Regions from separate parts of the Homo sapiens genome. Here region 2 is linked to region 1. The links come from fine-mapping of genetic effects on gene expression. Tissue or cell type: lung. Region 1 holds a variant in brackets; the other region holds the start of a gene. All regions are shown on one strand. Distances are from middle to middle.

What was found. PIP is the estimated chance that this variant, and not a neighbour inherited with it, causes the effect.
Region 2: GLP1R starts here. The variant in region 1 is fine-mapped to the expression of GLP1R in lung (GTEx, PIP above 0.99).

Annotation. Positions count from the first base shown.
Region 1 is chr6:39,100,845-39,103,599 of GRCh38, forward strand. No RefSeq gene overlaps it. Among named protein-coding and RNA genes, the nearest start is that of SAYSD1, 13 kb to the right of the region's middle. The variant T/A (reference allele first, on the strand shown) is at 1,407.
Region 2 is chr6:39,047,581-39,050,185 of GRCh38, forward strand. GLP1R (glucagon like peptide 1 receptor) reads left to right here and starts at 1,201. Exons shown (of 13, transcript NM_002062.5): 1 at 1,201-1,338. The coding sequence starts at 1,261. RefSeq lists an enhancer at 1,885-2,385.

The sequences.
Region 1 (2,755 bases):
GCCTGTAATCCCAACACTTTGAGAAGCCGAGGTGGGCAGATCACCTGAAGCCAGGAGTTTGAGACCAGGCAGGCCAGCATATAGTGAAACCCCATCTCTACTAAAAATACGAAAATTAGCTGGGTGTTGTGGCACATGCCTGTAGTCCCAGCTACTTGGGAAGCTGAGGCAGGAGAATTGCTTGAACCTGGGAGGCAGATCATGCTACTGCACTCCAGCCTGGGTGACAGAGTGAGACTCTGTCTCTCAAAAAAAAAAAAAAAAAAAAAAAAGTAAATTGGATCATATCACTCCCTTACATAAAAACTTCAAATGCACATAAATAAAACTCAAACTCCTAAGAAAGAAAAAGAAAGCAAGGGAAAGAATAGCGTGTTTAGAATGGTGTCATTTGCAGGCTTGAGAAAGAACAAACATGGCAGGGTGGAGGGAGATGTTCTCACTATACACCCCATGTACCTCTTGGCTTCTAAAATATATGCATAGAAGTACAACAATATTTTATTCCTTCCTGTATTTCCAAAATGTTCTAAAATGAGCATGTACTTCTTGTTGTAATCATTTAGAGAAAACCTCAAAAATAAAGGACTTAATTTCCACGTAGTCTTTGGAGTTAGCTCCTCATTGTTTTAAAGCTATGTTTCTTCGTCTCTCGCTTTGGTGTTCCAAATGAACAGTTTGAAAAATAGCAAGCCTCATTGCTCCCTTTAAAAATGCACACCAATTTTCTTTGCTTGGATCTAATAATCACTAAATTTTCTTCCTATTTTAACATTTATTGTTTACGTCAGCGGCTCTTAATCTTTATTGTGCCAGAGATCACACCTGGGAGGCTGTTAAAATGCAGATTCTCAGGATTCTACCCTCAGACATTCTGAGTCAGTGGGGGCCCTGGAATCTGCATTTTAACATTACTACAGGAGATTCCTATGCAGGTGCGTGGTCTATAGACCATACTTTTCAAAACGTTCATCCATGACTTGTTAAGGAAAGAGTATTTTTCACATAGAAGTGAAAATCCTATATAGTATAGAATTTAGGACTGCAAGTGATCTCTCCCTTGAACACACACACACACACCTTACACCTTTATAAACATTCACATTATGTCCTGTACTTTATAATACAGTTTGTGTGCACTCATCTTGTCTTCTCTCTCAGATTTTTGAGAATGGGATCCAAGTCTTTATGTAGCCTAGTGCTCCAAAGTTGTGAAATAAAATTATGTGTGATAGAAACCAAAGCATATGGTTCAAAAGTTACTTTCTTTGGCTTAGGGAGTTGGTTTTCTCTGCCAACTATGTAAATTCTTAGTCATTCCACCTCCCCTTCCCGCAAAGCTTAGCTATGTGCAAGCAACTGTAACACTGCCTGCTAAGTCTAGAGAGGGGCTGCTGTTTTATTTT[T/A]AAATACATATATAAATCACTTCTGGTAGCTTTCTATGCCTTTCCCAGGACCTCTGATGGGCCCTTTCCTCTGTGAGTTTTAAACTGAAAAAAACATCTGAAAAAGCAGCACAAGCGGTTGAGATAAACATCCCAGAGGGTTTTCCACATTACGTAAATTTTCAAGTGTGATGTGAAGGGACCCGTGAGGTATAGTGGCAGCTCTACGCCACCGCCTGGCGGCAACATGCTTCATGACATCCCAACCCCACCCCTGCATCCCCGGGCTCTTAGGGACGCTCATCCTATGCAGGAGCTCATATGTGTGTGTCCCCAGCAGCGCCAAATCCAGGGCATCTACAAATATTTGCTGGTATGAGTGGCAGGAACTAAAAACACACAGCTCGAATTTTGATGTCTTCTGCCCAACTGAGGGTCACTGGTTCTTTCAATTCTGTAACTTTCTAAGATTTTGCAGCACAGAGCTTTTTGATTGACGCACAGATCAGTCAAAAGGCAAATGTGAAAGACAGCCTATACTCAAAGCATAACTCTAATAGCACAAAATACACATGCCTAAGTCATCACTGGCAAAGCTCCAAAGCTTTTGAGAAAGATCATTATACCCATCCACAGGGCCACTCACCCCCACCCAAACCTGAAACACTTAGAATAGGTCAGGGCTAGCATGAAAGTGATTGAGTCCCAGAGGTATAGCTCAATGACTTGGCCTAAAGAGCAGAGAGAAAAGAGAACTGAGTAAAGGTTTACCAGTGTGAAGGATGCTCACATAGGCCTCCAGGGACTCCACATCCACTGAGATTAGGAGACAAAATAACCCCAGATGGCGGGGATGGGGGTGGCAAAAGTTCTTTCAGTAAACATAAAGAACTTCCTAGGAAGTACCTGGAATCTTCTTTAGGGGTTCACTAGAAACAAATTATCTTTAGTTGGGAATAAATGATGGCCCTGCCCAAGGTTGGGGGTGGGGAACACACTTGATGGTATTTTGGGGTCCCTTCCAACTTTAGATGTAGAGTCTTGTTGAACAGTCCCTATCAATAGGCAAGATGGGATAATGTGAATAAAAGCAAAAACCAAGTTACTTGTTAGACTTGGACACAAACGACTTCACTCGTGTATAAAGCTATCACAGTGACTGCATCTACCTCTGGGATTTCAAGTTCCCTGATGACAGAAGAATCCTTTAATGGAAGCTGCATGCTGGGTTAATGGTCAGGCTGTGAGTGGAAATTCTGAGATCAATAGGCCTAAATTCGGAAAATCAAGGCTGCACCTAAAACCTAATGGTCTGATCAGAGCACCAAATACTTATTGTTCTTTCTTCTTCTCCCTGCCAGGCCATTAAT
Region 2 (2,605 bases), 53 kb before region 1:
ACCAGAGCTTGCTGGAGAGGAGAGTCTCTCCTGGTGAATGGAAGCCAGGGGCCCCTCCCACTGGCTGTCTCCTTCCCTGGGCTCAGGCAGGTCCAGCCTTCCTCAGGACTTTGAGAAGTTCAGTTCTCTCCCCAGGAGTAGCTACTTTCACAAACTTCCTGTCCCTTTAGTCGACATGCCCCACGGCAGGTCCGAGGCTGGGCTCTGCCACAACTCATCTTTCCTAAGAGTGGCATCAAGGTTCTTTGGTGGGGGATCCTCTTTTCCCATCCCCACTTCTCAAGAGCATTAGGGAAGATACAGTCAGTGCCCTCTTAGCATTCTCTTTCCACTTGTTGGGTGTAAGAAGGGAACCTGAGGGCCCTGCAGTGTTTAGGGGTGGGAGTGGAAACAGACAGGAAAGATCCAGAGTCCCCAAGAAGCGAAGCAGGGAGAGAGATAAAGAAGGCAGGAACAACCATGGACACACATTATCACACATACACAGGTTACAAGAGCAGGAGGCTGGAGCTGCAAGAGGTGGCAGGGAAGCTTCCAGAAAGGCAGACCCCAGCCTCATCCCTCCCTGCCCTGCAATGCTGAAGTTTCCAGGTAGAGGGGAACCTCTAGACCCTTGCGACTGTCAGAGTTCTGTGGATCCATTTGTCAGTCTCCCCACCCCCAACCTTGACTATCCTGGGCCTGCCTTCAGGACAGAACATGGGAATGAGAAGAGGACCTGGGAAGGGGTAATCCTGGGAAAAAAAAGTTCTTATTAGTCACCCCTGGCTCTGAGGATACTTTCCAGGAGTGGCCTGCCAAGCCGTGTGACCTTGGACAAGTCCCGTCCATTCCTCAGGCCTCAGTTTCCTTTGAGGGACCCTGAATGGGCGGGGGTTGCTGTAGCTTTCCTCAGCTGGGAGACCCGGGAGGAGGTCCGGGGTGCCAGGGTGGGAGGAGGGCCTGGCTTGTCGCTGAAAGCCGGCCAGGCGCACTGTCGGCGCTCAGAGCTGGTGGCCGCCTCCTGCGCTTCCTGATTCCCAGCCGCGCTCGCTCGGAGAGCAGTGCCCGCTATCTCCTGGCCCGGGACCGGCAGAGGGGTGCGGCGGGGCGGGCCCAGGGGTCTCTGGCGGCCGGAAGAACCGGGACCCTGCCAGGCCCCTCCCGCGGGCAGGGCGGCCCCTCGCCGGCTCCTCCCCCACCGCCCGCCACCAGCCCGGGATCAGTCTCCGCACGCGGTTCCGCAGGTGGCAGCGATGGCCCAGTCCTGAACTCCCCGCCATGGCCGGCGCCCCCGGCCCGCTGCGCCTTGCGCTGCTGCTGCTCGGGATGGTGGGCAGGGCCGGCCCCCGCCCCCAGGTGAGATCCAGGGACCCCGACGACACCGGGGGAGGCGGGTGGCTCTGCGGGCTGCAGGCGCAGTGTCCTGGTGGAGGGCCCCGGGACTTGAACGAAACTCCGAGACCGCTGGCGGGGGCATCCGAAAGCCTCGGGGGGAGTAGGGACTGGAGACTTGGTGCCCCTGGGCTGGAAGGCCCAGGTGAGGGCTTGGACTACAGAGGATTCCCCCCAACCCCAGCGAGGCGCCCTCTTCCTCGCCACCCGGGTCCCTCTGCCCGGGCACCCGCTGCCCCGCGGCCGCCCTGCGCTGACTTCTGCTCCGCTTCTCCTTTGTCCCCAGCACTTTCCCAACTCCTTCTAAACCGTGTCAGCGGCCCTGGCACAGCCCGGCATCCTCCCGGACTCCCTCTGCCCCACAGTCTGACCCAGACCCCTCTCCCGCAGTGCCTCCCCAGACAATCCACCTGCTCAAAGACCCTGAGAAGACCCTGGGAGGAGCTGAGAGGGCCAGGGTGCGGAGACCCGGCTCCTCTCCCTTTCTCATCAGCCCCCAGCACAGCCTTTGATTCATGGCTCCTGGGGCCCTGCGGTGGCAGCTTGTCCTTCCCAGTGACCTCCCAGATGGAACCTACCCCCCGTCCCCTACCAGCCTCTGTAGCAAACAGGCAGAAGGCTCAGTGCCCCCCTGGAAGCAGCCAGGCGCCCCCACTCACCCACTCTGCTGACCTCCCATTCTCATCCTGCACTGACAGCAGGCCCCAAGAGAAGGCATACTGGGACACGCAAGAACACCTGGGCTCCTTGGTGCCACCAGAGAGCAGGCCACAGGTGGACCACCGCAGCCCCTCTCTCTTGCCCTTGTTGCTTTTCCTGCCCTGGGATCCTGGGCTAGGGACAGTGGTCAGCTGCTTTTGAAGAGGGGAGCTGTCCAAAGATGCTGGGACTTGCTTGAGCAGAGAGGAGACATAGACTTGGGTGGCCTGTCCTGGGTCAGGAAACAGGTTCTTCCTATCACCTCCCACTGCTACCCCCAGACCTAAAGAACTGAGATCTGTGGGGAGTGGACCTGAACGAACCTTGAAGTTTGTCCCAGAACCATTGCCTTGGTGAGGGCAGACTCCACCTCGGCGGAAACCCCAGATGTGGACAGACATACCTCTCAGCTAAGATGCCAGCACATTTTTCAGCCCCCAGATTATTTTCCAGACGCATCCTCTCCCTGCCCCTGTTCCCCAGCCCAGCTGCTGTCCTGAGCCCCAGGAGACAACCTCCCCCTTCCAAGACA